4 linked regions of the Homo sapiens genome follow. The protein of the gene in region 4 purifies or fractionates together with the protein of the main gene of each other region. This does not show direct contact. Each region holds a gene or a part of one and is shown on either strand. Other genes may lie near its edges. The genes, in order: CCDC80, PPP3R1, CRYBB3 and CSN2.

Evidence for each region.
Region 1: the proteins of CSN2 (region 4) and CCDC80 purify together in Homo sapiens (co-immunoprecipitation; one large-scale study listed by IntAct). This does not show direct contact.
Region 2: the proteins of CSN2 (region 4) and PPP3R1 purify together in Homo sapiens (affinity purification with mass spectrometry; one large-scale study listed by BioGRID and IntAct). This does not show direct contact.
Region 3: the proteins of CSN2 (region 4) and CRYBB3 purify together in Homo sapiens (co-immunoprecipitation; 2 studies listed by BioGRID and IntAct, with this or other methods). This does not show direct contact.

The regions. Positions count from the first base shown.
Region 1 is NC_000003.12:112,623,500-112,627,889, forward strand, and holds part of CCDC80 (coiled-coil domain-containing protein 80 precursor), read right to left. Parts: intron 1-4,390. UniProt on the Homo sapiens protein: Promotes cell adhesion and matrix assembly.
Region 2 is NC_000002.12:68,179,132-68,183,521, forward strand, and holds part of PPP3R1 (calcineurin subunit B type 1), read right to left. Parts: intron 1,880-4,390; coding exon 1,832-1,879; 3' UTR 1-1,831. UniProt on the Homo sapiens protein: Regulatory subunit of calcineurin, a calcium-dependent, calmodulin stimulated protein phosphatase. Confers calcium sensitivity.
Region 3 is NC_000022.11:25,202,390-25,205,780, reverse strand, and holds part of CRYBB3 (beta-crystallin B3), read right to left. Parts: intron 3,108-3,391; coding exon 2,989-3,107; intron 2,019-2,988; coding exon 1,886-2,018; intron 562-1,885; coding exon 419-561; intron 1-418. UniProt on the Homo sapiens protein: Crystallins are the dominant structural components of the vertebrate eye lens.
Region 4 is NC_000004.12:69,955,294-69,959,683, forward strand, and holds part of CSN2 (beta-casein isoform 1 precursor), read right to left. Parts: intron 3,777-4,390; coding exon 3,756-3,776; intron 3,661-3,755; coding exon 3,616-3,660; intron 2,512-3,615; coding exon 1,981-2,511; intron 1,063-1,980; coding exon 1,057-1,062; 3' UTR 1,021-1,056; intron 300-1,020; 3' UTR 1-299. UniProt on the Homo sapiens protein: Important role in determination of the surface properties of the casein micelles.

The sequences.
Region 1 (4,390 bases), on a different chromosome or scaffold from region 4:
ACGATCCACTATCCACCTTCATCACAGTCACCAGGAGTGCTTGTTAAAATTACAATTCTTGGATCCAGATCAATTGACTCAGAATTACTGGTGGTGAAGCCCAGGAATCTGCATTTAAAAAATTTCCTGGGTAGTTGTTATACACTCTAAAAACAAAGAGCTACTGTCCCAGAGGAGAAAATCTAAATCCTTGTCATAGCATACAAGATCATTTATGGCAGTATAAACTTATCTATTAACTCTTCCTCCACATGTTATGCTCCAGCCCCCTATTTTCGGTCTCTAGAAATGTGCCCTCTCTTCCTGGAATGCTGTCCACATGAGTACTTCTTATTGTCTCTGAAACCTGTCTTCACCTCACTTGTGCACTCAACATTTTGGCATTCTTCTGTAATAATGCTAATCACCTTGCATTGCAACCAGTTGTTTACATATCTGTCTTCCCCCTAGATATGAGTAATTCAACAATAGAGACTGAGTTTTGGTCACCTTTTACATCCTTTCAGGCTGGCACAGTTCCTAGCATACAACCCCAGCATTCAGTAAAGATTTGGTAATCACTAGAACTCTCCCATAAGAAAGATATATGAAAAAGACAGTAATAAGGTATAGATAAGGTGAGTGATTCTGGGACTGTGTAGAAAACCCACCATAAAACCTTCACACTTTCCTTTGATCTTGTGAACCCGCAACACAGTCTAATGTAATTTGAGAAAACACATTCATATATATTTTTTTCTAAAATTGGTTTTGCATGCATTAGGTCTTTTAAATAAAACATATTTGTAAGGCATTTAAAATATAACGATTCTTTTCAAGAAGTCAGTAGGGGCCAAAACTCTCTTGGTTGTGCTTTGCATAAGCCAGGAGGTAGATGCCAGCAGAAGCTAAATTGCTTTTATTCTCAAGAACATTGCCAGGAGTGCTGAGCAGTCCATGGCAGGTTATTTCAGTTAGGATAACCTTGGCCTCCAGCTTGGAACTTATTTCCTTTTGATTGGAAATGGATAAGTTTAAATTACTTTGCAATTGATCTGCTTACTCCCCTTTTACTCTATGAGTGGGTCATTTTCCTATCTACTACCCCACTGTGAGATGAGTGACCTGATTAAATTGATAGGTGGGACTACCCTGGCCATTCCTGATCACTTTTTCTCTAGAAAGAGCAACTTGTCTTATTAATAAAGAGTGTGTCCTGTCCAAGTGAATTGCTGTCCTACAGATTGACTCCATCAAATCTTAAAGTTATAAATATATTTGAAAAATATATTCAGAAATATTTAGTGACTTCACATGGTTTACATATAAAGTTTGAATACTTTATCTTGGTATTAGAAATCTAATTTCAGGTGCCAAACTACATTTCTAGCCCTCTCTTCACCTCTTATCCTCTACCTAGCCTTCTGCTCTAGATCAAACCTAATAGCAAATCAGAATCACCTGAGCAACATTTTAAAATATAGATTCCTGGACCTCATTCCTAAACAAATGAGTCATTATCTTGGAGTAGAAAGGGGAGGTGGGAGTCTGAATTTTTTTCCAATTTATATAGAGTACCTATGCATTGGGATGAAAAAGATGACAACGCAATAGAAAAATGGGCAAAGAACACTAAAAAGGAAATATAAATGCTCCCTAAGCATGAAAATGTGTTCAATCATACTCACAACATGAGAAATGCAAATCAATACTACCCTATACTGATACCATTTTTCACATATTACACTGGTCAAAAGCATCCAAAAGTTTGATTACACACATTAATTGGAGAGGTCTGGGGAAATAGACATATTTAAACATTGTTGTTGGAACTGCAACATGATTCAACTTGTGTGGAGAGAAATCAGGAAGTATCCACTCAGACTACATTTTCTATTTAGTCTAACAATCCTGTTTCTTAGACTGTATTGGAAAGATGCACACACAATTTCACAATTTAATCGTAACCTTGTTCATATATAGCTCTATGTATGTGTGATATATGTGTAAGAACAAAATATTGAAAATAGTCCAAGTGTCCATGGACAAAATGTTTAAACTATGAGAGAATCTCACAATTTTTTGATAAGAAATGGGGAAGATTGCTATATACTCATAAAGAAAGATCTCCTAGAAATATTTTAAGTGAAAAAAGCAAGGTGTGGAACAATATATATAATATGCTATATTTTGTATAAAAAGAAAAATATATAGGTATTTATTTGTATTTGTCTAAAAAAGTACTAAATGAATAAATAAGGAATTAACAAAAATGATTACCTGTGGGTGCAGGGAGTAGCAGGGTAAAGGGGTCAGGAAGGATACAAGACTTGTCTGTGTACACCTTTTTATATAGCTTTGACTTTGAAAATTTAAAAAAAGTATTTCTTTGAAAAATTAAACAAAAACAAAAATACCTTGATCTAGTCATTATTCTATCAAAAGAAAAAAAACCTACTCATTTTTCAAGGTCCCTCCATTAAATCAACCTACTTTTCAAAATTCTCTGATATTTTCAATACCTTATCTGATGACTACAATTGGAAGAGCCAATCCCTCCACTACATTCTTCAAACACTTGTTTTGTACATTTGACATATCAGGCACTTTTCCCCCTTGGAATGTCAGGGATTGGTCTTGACACTGATATGCTTGATGTTGGAGGCAGCAAGGGCAGTGGACTAAGAAGACTGAGTAGGTTAGGAGACAGGCTCTCTAGTCTCTAGGGCACAGAATGATTGATAAGTAAAGACTTATCAAAGCAGAGGGGGACACACAGCCACTGTGTGGAAGTCTGAGCACTCATCCTGCCTCTCCTCCCAGCTCAGTGTTGCAGGGTCTAGAGAAGGCAGCTGCCAGGCACTGTCACCACTGATGAAAGGAGAAGTTGGGGGAAAAGGGTCTATTTTTCAGGACTGCCCCAGAGGCAAAGCAGCATTTTTGAATTGTTGTGGATCCTGATGACTGAGGTTTCTCTAGAAAGAACAATTCTCTTCAACAGGATCAGACAGAAAGGGTATTTTAGACTGATTTGTATACTATCATTCTCATTTTGTTTATTTATTGATTTATTTATCTATTTATTTTGAGACAGAGTGTCACTTTGTCACCCAGGTTAGAGTGTACTGGCATAATCTTGGCTCACTGCAACCTCTGCCTCCCAGGTTCAAGAAATTCTCCTGCCTCAACCCCCCAAATAGCTGGAATTACAGGCATCTGCCACCATGCCCAGCTAATTTTTGTATTTTTAGTAGAGATGGGATTTCACCATATTGGCCAGGCTGTTCCCAAACTCCTGGCCTCAAGTGATCAGCCTACGTCGGCCTCCCAAAGTATTGGGATTACAAGCATGAGCCACTGCACCTGGCGTACCATTCTCATTTTAAAAATTGACTTATGAAGTCATTAGATAGTAAGAAATCAACATTTTCTCTCTCCTTGTTGCCATATTCCACCTCCATGAACTTTGCTACCTCTCTTGATTACCCTCAAACTCTCCTTTCTTTGAAAGAAGTTATCAAAAAACTTCCCTTGCCCTATTAAATGTCCTGTGTATTCTAGCTCTTAAAATTTGGTGATAAAATGCCAATGTTAAAATATTTTTCATCTCTAAATATTGCTAAGAAAGAAACATGCTTGCTGTGCATTTCCCCCCACTTCTTTTTTCATTCTGCAATGAAGTGCCTTTAGCCAGCAACTTTTTCCTATCTGACAAAATTTGTCTGTAATCCATTCACTAAACATACACACCCAACATTCCTATCCTAGACTGACATTTTAGATATCACTAACAAGAAAGAATGCCTTTATGTGTTAGGCCATTTTAAACCCCACATGCAATATACTCTGTGCTGACAAAACCAGATAGGCATTGGAATTTGCTCAAGCATAAATAACTTTATTTACATGAAAGCCTAAAATCTTAAGGTAAGTTTCTTGGCGTTTGTAGGTTCATCAGTGATGTCCAAATACTTTTAGCAAGATGGACCAGCTGGTGAGTACGGCCCACACTGTAGTTGGATGTGTGCCCCTGCTTTCAAGGCCCAGTAAAAGTCTGGAATAGTAGGCAGAGCTTGATTTATTTTTAAGGAAAAGTAAGGCCATCTGATAGATTTCCAGCTGAAAGTCAGTCAAGGCTGGAGTTTTTTGGTTCACTGAGCCCATGGCTCATGCCAATTCTTTTTATCCCATGGCCGACTCCCAGTCTTGGCTCACAGTGCTACAGCCTTTCCCATAAGGGTAAACTGGGACATGACACAAGGAAAGAGAGGCCTTCCAGGAATTAGATGAGAAACAAAATAAAAGATCTCCCACCCCAAAATCAGGTCCCGGCTACCATTCAGTGAGGAAAATGCCCAAATCATAATACCTGATTTCCAATAAGGCAGAAAAAAAAAAAAAAAAGACCCAC
Region 2 (4,390 bases), on a different chromosome or scaffold from region 4:
GTAACAAATACTTATGTACAAAAAATTCACAAAAGGCTAGTTCCCCCTTGAAGCAGAGCACATGGCAGTTGACACTGGAACAGTTCAAACCACTGGCTGGGATTATAAGCCATGCCACTGATCCAGAGGAAGAAAGTTACATGTAGTGGAGATTTTCAGTCTGAACATTAACATTTCCAAAGTTTGGCAACATTATCTTTTAAAATTATGCAAATTATGTAAACAAGAGGTACATTTTAAATTGATCTACATGCAAAACTCCATGTCATGCAAGGACACCAAGCACCGGGATTTTTCTCTCACAGACAGAGCCCATGATGTGCAGCACTCAGTTGAAGGAACAGCGATGGCAGGCAGGTGTGCTCAATTTCAGATTGATTCACCTTGATTCAACCTGCCCTTTTCCACTGATTTTAAAACCAGTTTTTATAGAGAAACTATAAAGGGAAAGACTACTGTCATACAAAGCTAACCAAAATGTTTTTCTTCCAGCTAACAGTACCTTTGCAGAAATGGGAAGGGATAAGATCAAACAGTAGAACATGATACACTACTTTTATATCACACAAATTTATTAAGTTATCCATTACCAATTATATGGGCAAATCAAGAAAAAAAAACCAGTATGCATGCTCTATCCCTCGTGGTAAAGAAATTTAAGTGGCATAAATTTGGATACAATTTTGCTCTTCTGTGGCATATAGATTAGCAAGATTTCTCACACTTAAACCACAAATATATGTGGGTGTTTAGATACATACATGCATATTAAATATCACCAGTTTTTTAGATTAGCTGCAAGTCTTTTGAAACAAGGGAATTCATGATTCAAACACAAGTTTAATGACAAATTATTTACCCATGTAATCAAACAAATGGATATCCCTTATAAGTAGTTACATGATCACTTCAGGTATTCTTCAGTAAGTGATACATACAATCAATCATGATTGCCTCAGACAGCTTCTGGCCTTTATGTATAAAATCACAACTAGCACTTAACGTTACTGAGGGACATTTAATAAATGCAATGGCTCCTAGTTACAAAGTAGCAGAATGAAGCAGCTATAAGCCCTGTGCAGTTACTATATGAACACAAGAACTAGCTCTTGGCAGTAGCAATGAACTAGACTTTCTCCTCAAGCAGAGGTGTATTAAAAGCTGCTCAGCAATGAGAAGTAGTCCCTGGATATATTCATAAGTATAAATAAAGTTACAGACTCCTTTGTTACAAAAATGTAATTAAGGTAAATAATAGGACGTTAACAAATGCTTTGTCAATCTCTCAAAGGAGAAAGCACAGGAAAAGGAAAATAGCTGGCCTAACACCCGGCTCAAATTGTACAGTCTTCTATCTATATATAAAACTGTGTGAAATAAAAGTAAGGATGTTTTATGTTCTGCTTGGCACTTTTGTACTCTATTGTTTTGTTTCTGAATCAAGTATATTAAATTAAAGCCAACCTACTACATATATAGAAAGCTACATATATCTATATATAAATATTTACATATGTATATATAGATACTTTCTTGTTATAAAAGATGAAGAAAAATAAATTAAAAAGCCAACCCCTTCCCTTTCTCCACCACATTGATATGCTCTTTTCATGTTGCTGTCCTTCAGACTTTAAAGTGCTACACTGAGTTATTGAGAGAATTACAGTTCAATAACACTTAGTTGGCTTCATGAGGCTCATGTTGGAAAATGTGGCTTCACAGAGAAAAATACTTCCATTTAAATACACAGAGAGCATTGCTGGACGTCTTGAGCAGATCTTCAGAGATGGAGAAGAAAGCAAAAGTGTTGGGTGGTACTCTCTGATAAGAGTCACACATCTACCACCATCTTTTTGTGGATATCTAGGCCACCTACAACCTGCAACAGACAGGAACAAATCAAGCTTCACAGTGTCTGAGAAACTCCTCATTCGTGGTCTAACTACTTCATCAAATTTTAAAAAATATTACTAGGGGGCTGGGCGTGGTGGCTCACACCTGTAATCCCAGCACTTTGGAAGGCCAAGGCAGGTGGATCACAAGGTCAGGAGATCGAGACCATCCTGGCTAACACACGGTGAAACCTTGTCTCTACTAAAAAAATACAAAAACTTAGCCGGGTGTGGTGGCGTGTGCCTCTAGTCCCAGCTACTGGGCAGGCTGATGCAGGAGAATCGCTTGAACCCGGGAGTTGGAGGCTGCAGTGAGCCTATATCGCGCCACTGCACTCCAGACTGGGCAACAGAGCGAGACTCCATCTCAAAAAAAAAAAAAAAAAATTACTTTAGCTATATTCAGAAGGTGAATTTAAAGACACACAAAAAACCAAAACAACAAAACTTGAGTGACCTCCAGTTAGAATTTTCATGGTTTCTTTCTCCTAGGATAACAGGCATTACTTTTTGGGTGTTCTTGTACAAGGGCCAGTCTTGCAGGCTACATGTAGTTTCTTTCACATTTTCCTTTTTTTTTTTTTTTCAAAACAACACTTCAGGTAAAAACGATTCTTAGTTCAAAGACAGACATAAACAGGCTATGGGCAGGATCTGGTTTGCTCTGTAGTTTGCTGGCCCCTACTTCAGTAGTTTAATATCACACGATAACCAGATATTATGACAAAAACTGTCCTCACAATCAAATATGCGTGTCACTCTCAGTCTGTTCTAGACAATTTAAAAAGTACCAAGTGAATAAACATGTCTGTATATTATTTTTCTGTAGAGTCAAATACATGTAGTCATACACATCTCAGTGAATACTGACATGGTAATGTGTAAGTGTAGTATCTGTATCATTTGGGGGGAATGTTTTATTACATTTAATCTACATAAAGAGAATGCATAGGTCATAAATGTCCACAGTTTGATGAATTTTCACAAAGTAAACACCCAATAACCAGCACCCAGATCTTCCAGTCACCAGACATCTCCCCTCCTCCAACCCCCCCCTCCCCCCACCACACACACACGACCAGTAGCTACTATTTTCTGTTTCTGTACATTTTATAAATGGAATCTCTTTCGTGTCTAGCTTCTCTCAATTTTATGCTTGTGAGATTAATCCATGTTGTTATGTGTATTTGTTATCTGTATTATTTTTAAATTCAAACTAAAAAAATAGTCCCTTTATTTGAAAACTAAAGCATAAAGTGCCAACGAATTCTACAACTCCTGCTGTGGGAAAAAAAGCAGTTTGTCACCCTGCCCTCATTCTCTATTTGCTTTTATGCAGTGGCAATAATTTAAAGTTTTCAGCTGACTTGCACTATTTACCTCCAGGTCTCTTAAGATTTTTAGCTTTCACATACTTCTCTTCCCTCTATCTCCTACCCTACACACTTCACAAACTCTGTACCATTCCAATGGCTTTATCTTTATTTTCATCAGAAATTCAGCATTTTTCAGCCAGGTGCGGTGTCTCACGCCTGTAATCCCAGCACTTTGGGAGGCTGAGGTGGGCAGATCACTTGAGGTCAGGAGTTCAAGACCGGCCTGACCAACATGGTGAAACCAGGTCTCTAATACTTAAAAAAAAAAAAAAAAAAGATTAGGCGGCATGACTCCAGCCTGGGCAACAAACTGAGGCAACACTCCCTCTCAAAAAAAAAAAAAAAATCAGCATTTTTCATTGTTATAACTATACAATACAGATAAACAGAACTATGTATTATGATTACTTTTTCTTTCCTGCACATTTGTTTGGTACACAGTTAATTCCTTTGCTGGGTGTTCTATGTAATTATAATTCAACCCCTAACTTTTGTTCTAAATACATTCAACTAAAAATATTATGTAATTCTATCAATTTTATTGTCTTGAAAGCACTCTTTGAGCCTTCCAACCTGCTGCACTCTAGACTTTTTGTCTCCAGGCCTGTCATCTCTGGCGCTCTTCATCATATTGGGGATCCTCCCTCTCACCATGCTGGACCCTCTGCTTCCTGGATCCTACACTCTCTACTTGTTTGATTTATGACCTTATTGCAGTGGGAGCACATCCTCCAGTAGTTTCCAAAATGAGAAGGCCTTACATACCTAAAAGTGTCTTTCTACTACCATTTGAGTGTATAGAGAATTTTAAGTTGGAAATAACTGTCCCTCAGAATTGCACAGGCAAAATGCTCCATGTTCTTGTGGGTTTCCCACACTGCTACTAAGAAATCTGGTGCCATTATGACTCCTGGTTGTTTATATGAAGCCCTTCTCCCAGCACTCCACCCTACCACCCCAGCTCTTTGGAAATCTGCAGAACCAGTTATTTGTTCCCACTGTCTCAAAATTTCATGACAGTGTGCCCAGGTCCAGATTATTTTTACAGACTATGCTAGATGCTCCATAAGCCCTCTCAGAAAACATATTATTTTTGGCTTTGGAGTATTTTCTTGATTCATT
Region 3 (3,391 bases), on a different chromosome or scaffold from region 4:
GCAAGAAACTATAGGCACCGATGGCCGGGCGCCGTGGCTCACACCTGTAATCCCAGCACTTTGGGAGGCCGAGGCGGGCAGATCATGAGGTCAGGAGATTGAGACCATCCTGGCTAACACGGTGAAACCCCGTCTCTACTAAAAATACAAAAACTTAGCCGGGCGTGGTCGTGGGCGCCTGTAGTCCCAGCTACTCGGGAGGCTGAGGCAGGAGAATGGCATGAACCCGGGAGGCGGAGCTTGCAGTGAGCTGAGATCGCGCCACTGCACTCCAGCCTGGGCGACAGAGCAAGACTCCGTCTCAAAAATAAATAAATAAATAAATAAAATAATAAGAAACTATGGGCACTGATTCTGTTTGGAGCCAGAGGCATGGCTGACCAGAAGATGGGGCAAGGGTGAGGGTTGGGTCCCTTACGTCCCGTTGATGGCACGGACACTCGCCACACGGTCCTGGAAGCCATGAGCCCACAGGCTGGGCACGTCATCATCCACTATCTCCATCTTGCGGCCACTGAAAGCTGGGTTCTCAAACAGATGCAGCTTGTGATGTGGACTATCCTGAGGGCAATATCGTGGGGTGAGCGGCTGCTCCCATATCCAGAACAGAGGTCAAGGAGGCTCCAGATGCCGGAAAGAATCAACAGGTCACCACAAAATAACACCCACCCCCAAACCTGCTGCAGGAGGGAAGGGCCTCAGGAGATGCCTCCACCCCCAAATTCACTGTAGGAGGGACGGGGAGATTCCTCCAAAGCTGGTTGATTTAGGAACCTAGAGCCGTAGATTATAAAACTGAAAAGGAATTTCCAGATCTTGTTCAATCCCATCATTTAAATGATAGAGAAACTGAGGCCAGGAGAGGGTGGACAGAGATCAAAAGTATCAACATATGAGCTTTCCCTCTTTCCTAACCAGATGCCGGTTTAATCTTCCCAGTTTCCCCTCTTCCACTGCCCTCTAAGGAGGACTCAGTTATGTGACAAAGAGAAAGGGCTGGAGCAGCTGCGGGGTGTGAGTGAAGCAGGGGAGGGAGAAGGGTGGTGTTTAAAGTGTCACTGTGGGCCGGGCGTGGTGGCTCAGGCCTGTAATCCCAGTACTTTGGGAGGCCGAGGCAGGCAGATCACTTGAGGCCAGAAGTTCAAGACCAGCTTTGCCAACATGGCAAAACGCCACCTCTACTAAAAATACAAAAATTAGCCCAGCGTGGTGGCATGTGCCTTCAGTCCCAGCTACTCAGGAGGCTGAGGCAGGAGAATCACTTGAACCCAGGAGGCAGAGGTTGCAGTGAGCAGAGATCATGCCACTGCACTCCAGCCTGGGTGACAGAGCGAGACTGCAACTCAAAATGAAATAAAAATACATAAATAAAAATGTTTAAAAAGAGAGAGAGAGAAAGACTGCACTCCAGCATGGGTGACAGAGCAGGAGTCTGTCTCGAAAAATAAATAAATAAACAAATAAATAAAAAGTGTCACTGTGGACTGTGTCCCTTTCAGGTGCTAGAAAAACACAAGTGGAGAACTTAAAGTATTTTGGCTACTTTCTGAAGTTATTTCCTGGACTGCATTTCTTTGATAACAATACTGATTTGAGACTGGGCCATGTGGCTCATCGTTTTAGTACGGTTACAAAGAAAAGTCCCAGTGCTATGCTGGTTTAATTCAAGATGTGAGTCCTGGTGTCTCAATCCCCAACCGAATGTCCCTTCAATATCCCACTTCTTGTCCCACACAATTGTTCAAATCAGAAACATGAGGGCCCTTCCCAGGCCAGGTCCATATGGGCCAAACCCTCAGCCCAGCTTGTGCAATGAGCTGCCTGACCAGCTCTCAGTGCACCCTGCTTCCAGGAACACCCAGAAGTGAGCAGGAACCACACTCACAATATTCAGAGGCCGGAGGGACAGAAGGCTGTCACTATCACGGCTGTTGGACCAGGCATCCCAGCGAGGATAATCCCCCTTCTCCAGAACAAACTGCTCCCCGCGGAAGGCCCTGGACTCAAATGCCAGCCACCTGAGGGAGGAAGAGGCTTGGCTGGGTCACCTTTGCTGCAGCTGAGGAAGGATTCAAGTTTAGTGAGAGAAGTGTCCAAGAGCTGCTGACCTTGAACCTTGTACCCTCCCTCCAACCCTACTGCTAATTCCTGGACCTGTAATTAAAGGAGCTGCTAGGACATACCGGGAACTGTCTGAGACTCTGGGCCAGAAAACCATCCTAGGGTATGTTATTGAGAATCTAGCCTCTGTGCAAGGTACCCAGAAAAGTCTTTAGCACAATGCCCGGTACACAGTAAGTATTCCATAGGTGACAGTGACTTCTTCCTCTTCCTTTTCCTCTTCTTTGTATTGTATTGTTATTAATATGTATTTATTTGCATCATTCCATTCATTTTCATAAAAACTCTCTCTGAAGTACGTACCATTGTTATCCCCATTCAACAGATGAGAAAACAGAGGCCTGGTGTGTGAAGCAACTTGCCGAAGATCACCCAGATGGTTAGTGCCAGAGCCTGGACTTGCAATCCAAAGGCGGGAATTCAGGGCCCAGCTGGGAGACCTGCCTGCCTTGTGGACATGGATGGGACACTTACCAACTTTGGCCTCAGTTTCCCCATCTATAAAGTGGGAATAAGAATGATACCTCTGTCACAGGGTCATGACGATTCAATGACATAATGCATGTTAAATTTTAGGTGTTACAATTATTATTAAAATTATAAATATTAAATCCCATGTTCCAGTCACTGAGTTAGGTGCTAGGTTGACCTTGCTGTTCTTCCAACCTCAGGTATCCTGGGATTTTCTGCAGACATCTAGGATTCTAGAGAATTCTTCAACTCTCATTTTACAGATGCGGAAAACGAGGCCAGAGAAGGCAGGGGAGCTGTCAAAAGCCCCACAACAGATCTAGAGCTCAGACTGGGGCCTCCACACTCCCAGAAGGCTCAGGGCTGTGGCGAGGGACTGGGGGTCTAGGTACTCACGGCCCGGACTCCACTTGGATGGAGCCCACCTTCTCCAGCAGGCTGTCGGTCAGGCTGGGGCACTCGGCCGAGAGCTCGCAGCGTTTGCCTTGGAAGTTCTCTAGTTCGTACAAGATCACCTAGAAGAGCAGAGTCCTAAACATCCCACCTCTGCTAGGCTCCCAGCTCCAGCCTCTGCCCCTCCTTTGGGCATTAGAGGGAGGTACCCTCTGCTTTCTGCATCTCTCCAGCCTGGAGCTGGCACTGAGGTGGGCCTGCACTGCCCTCTAATGGTCATGGAGGGAAACGCCTTCAGGAACTTCAATGAGACCAATTAAACTAGTGATTGCAACTCTGATGTCCAGCAGGAGCCAGGTGGGGAGTCCAGCGGACTGAAATAACCCGAGAGGTCGGTGGGGAAATG
Region 4 (4,390 bases):
AATAGATTCTTAAAGAAATAAAAATAAGCACAATTCCAGAAACAATTTGTATACATATGTTTGATATGTTTGTAGCATTTCCAAATGAGTATTGAACTTCTGTGGTACTAGTTGAATTAAGATTTGGAAAATGTAAATAGTTCATGAGTCAAATTTCAAATTAAATGAATGACATAATATATAAAATAAATAAAGGGACAAAGTTCATTTTTTCCATATAAACTCATTCAAACATACTTAATTTGGGGTAACGTGATACAAAGACGGAAAAGGCATCATATTTCCAGTCTCAGTCAATTCTGTGGAATAGAGAGCAAATATATAATTAGTTATGTTATAACACGTAACTATTCAACTCTCTTCACTTTTAACTTTGGTGTGACTAATTCACAAAAGAAATTGTATTGCAAATGCATTCTGTTGCGGTTTGGAGGCATGTAAAGTTTGTTCACCAAACTTCACCAAAGTTCATCAAATATTAGTGAACTTGAAATTGTTTCAGTGAAATGTCTGGTATTTCATAATCCCAAAAGGCTTTATATCTTAGAATTGCAATGCTGTTCTCTCCTCTTTTTAACCTTTACACTTGGAGTAATTTTAACTCATGAATTAAAAGATAATTTTAAGTAAAGTAAATACAAATTTTATGAAGGCTAGGTTAGAAATAAAAATGCAAATAGGCTTTTGACAAAAGCTCAAATGTATTTCCATAAAAGTAAAATAAGTATATATTCTGTCTTTCCTAAAAATAGTGATAATCAAATGTAAGTATATAGGCCCTTGAAAGCAAGCCAGTCAAATCTGTCAATAGTACATAAATAAAATTAAAGTTATTTGAAATGCAAAAGATAGATAGTTTCAGGTCAGTAAATGATAGTCAACCATTAAATTGATAATTAATAAAAAAAGTTCTTGTATGTATGAAATTTTCACTGTATTGGACTTCTCTAGGAGAATTAAATGTAAAAAGACATCATGTATAAAAATGATCAATTAAATCTCCAAACTCCCAAAACTTACCAAAAATAAGGAGGGAAAATTAACTTTGAAATCTTCTTAGACCTTAAAAATAAACAGATACAAATAAATAAATAACCTCTTAGTAAGAAAACTTGCCTTAAGAATGTTGTAAGTAGTGAAATAAGCATCTCCGTCTTTTGCCTTCATATATATTTACAGCAAAAACCAGATGTGAAGTAAGGCTTGTGTAAAATAAATAAATAAATAAATAAATAAATAACCTCTTAGTAAGAAAACTTGCCTTAAGAATGTTGTAAGTAGTGAAATAAGCATCTCAGTCTTTTGCCTTCATATATACTTATAGCAAAAACAAGATGTGAAGTAAGGCTTGTGTAAAAGAGATGTGCACAAGGAAAATGACAGAACATTTTTTAGCTTTTTTTTCCAAATTCAATCATATTATTAAATTTAATTCCGGCTTTTGTAAGCCTTAATTACTTTATCTAAATCAGAATTCTCAACAGACTAATTAAACCAGAATTCATGCAATAGTTTTTTTCTCAACACTCAGTTTCCTCTACACAAAAAACTAGAACAATTATATCAGAATCTCTGGGTAAGCTTAGGCATTGGGATTTGTGGGGAAAAGTTCTCCAGGTGATTCTATTGTATAGGTAAGCATTAAGAATCACTTATCTATGAGAACACATGGACACAGGAAGGGGAACATCACACACCTGGACCTGTCGTGGGGTGGGGGTAGGGGGTAGGGATAGCATTAGGAGATATACCTAATGTTAAATGACGAGTTAATGGGTGCAGCACACCAACATGGCACATGTATACATATGTAACTAACCTGCATGTTGTGCACATGTACCCTAAAACTTAAAGTATAATAATAAAAGAATCACTTATCTAAACTGTTTTTTTAATTCATTTACTCTACATTTATTCTTTTATTCTACCATCACATACACATCTTGAATGAAACAGCAAAGCCAGTAAATTTGGACTTACACTAATGGGGTTATGAACTGGGGCAAGTGGCTGAGTCACAGGGTAGATCTGGTGGGTGGGGTTAAGTAGAAGTTCTTGGTTGAGCAGAAGGGCTTGAACAGGCACAGCTCTCTGAGGGTAGGGCACCACTTGCTGGGGGATAGGCAGGACTTTGGGCTGAGGAACAGACCACAGGGGCTGAGGGGGAAGTGCAAGAGTCTGAGGAATAGGCTGAGGGACCTGCTGCATCAAGGGCTGGAGCAGAGGCAGAGGAAGATGCAGATTTTCAAGATCAGTGAGTTTTGGGATTTGAGGGTCAAAAAAGGGTATCGTTGGAGATTTAAGGACAGGCATCACTCTGCCCTTAGTGTAGACAGTGTCTTTAGCTTTAGGGACTTCCATTATTTCAGGCTGAGGGACAGGCAGCACCACAGCAGGCTGAGCAAGAGGCAGAATGTTTTGTGGAAGAAAACCATAGGGGATAGGTTCAACGAATGGATAGATCAGAGGCTGTGGCTGGAAAGAGGGGTAGATTTTATCCTGGTGTTCATCCTGGAAAGAAGGAAAAAGAATCTTTGAGTCCTTGATTAAGCTATAATTGCCATTCATAATGAATTCATTTCTCTCTTTTAGACAATGATAAATGAGTAAAAAGAGAGGAGAAAATATTTCACTTATTTTGGTTAAGAAAGTATCTTGAGTCATGCGAAGAAAAATGAGTAAACTGTTTGTTGAAAAATTTTAATCCACTCACTTCATGGGTAACTCCACAGGCCAAAGTGAAATCAATGTTTGGATATTTCAGAAACACTTTTTTTAACATTTTCCTGAATTGCCTGGATAGCTGTAGCTGTACACTTTGGTCTTCAGAGAGAATTTACTTTTCAACACAGTTGTGCCAATAGTAGACCAAATTGTTTTCATACAGTGAAAAGAGATCAGTTTAAAAAGACTTAGAGGGACAATTCCAAGGTTTATTTTTGTTTTGTTTTGGTTTGATGAAAAAGAAAATCAGTCTTAATTTGTGGCTAATCTCAGGAAGTAATTTAACACCGGCCAAATTCTTACATTCCTTCCCTTGGGAGAAGATAGTCTCTTGAGTCTTTCAAGAGACATCAATTTTTTTGTTTAAATTTGATTTTAGAAATATTTTATGTGACTCCAAACAATTCATTGGTACACAAAGCAATTGAAAATTATAATTGGGTAAACATATCACCATAAATGTAATTTAATGAAATACAGGATTTTGTGTTGTCCATATGGGAATAAAGGCAATATGGGACAAATTTTACATAGGTTTTTTTACCAGCCGTATACACCTTTTCATTACCATATCCACCTTGGAAATAAGAGGATCATAGTTCCCAACCTGGAAATGTTCCCACCAATGTGTACTTGTTGAAAACAGATATACCATTAGTAATATCATTATGTATTTAGTCTGTATTCTAGAAATTAATTATGAGTTTAAAAATGCATGCATATCCTAGAAAATATATTGACTTTATCAATGTTTAATTTTTAAAGTGGTTGGTGGGTATATGGCATTTATTTTATTATCATTCTTTAGAATCAACATACACATTATAAATATTTTTGTATGTATTATACTTTATAATAATTTTAAACATATACTTATCATTAACAAATTACCTCTCCTTGCTGCTGGTCCTCATGTTTAACCTTCTCAACTTTCTGCTAAAGATATATCATATATAAAGATATGTTACCATCTGTAAAGATTAAAAGGAGGAAATTTTGAAAATGTGTACATTTTAAATGTGAAAATTTACCTTGTATTCTGTAATAGATTCCTACAGAAAAATATAAAATAAAATTAGGTTTAGTTTTAACAATTCTTACTTTGCAATATAAATCAGGAAATAAAGGCATTAATTCTTTGATAATATCATTAATAACTTTGTATAATCATTAAACTTATGTATTAAACTGTTCTATATGAGCTTGTTATGTAAAAGAAAGTCAGATGAATGCAGTCAAGAAGGACATGGTACAAAAAAAAGCAATTAATAGATGCTAATTTCTCTCTACCACCATGCTCATTCCCTGACAACAAATGATATCTAAAACCCCATCTGATTTTTAAAAAAAGAAATACTCATTGAAAATATATTCTAATAACAATTGATACATTATGATCACTTCAAATGAATCATAAGAGTTAAACACTTCCCTTAAGGATCATATAACCTTTCTGAAGAGACAGAATCTATTGATGTACCATTTACTTATCAAGTGATCACACACCCAAGAAGAGTGGTGTAAGAATAAATATCTACCTGACTCTCTCAGGTAAATTTAGGACTACACTAAATCTCGCTTATTTACTAAAGTGGCTATTGTAATTATAAAATGTGTCCTTTTTGCACGTCTGCCTACCTACTACTTAGCAAGCTCTTAACTATCA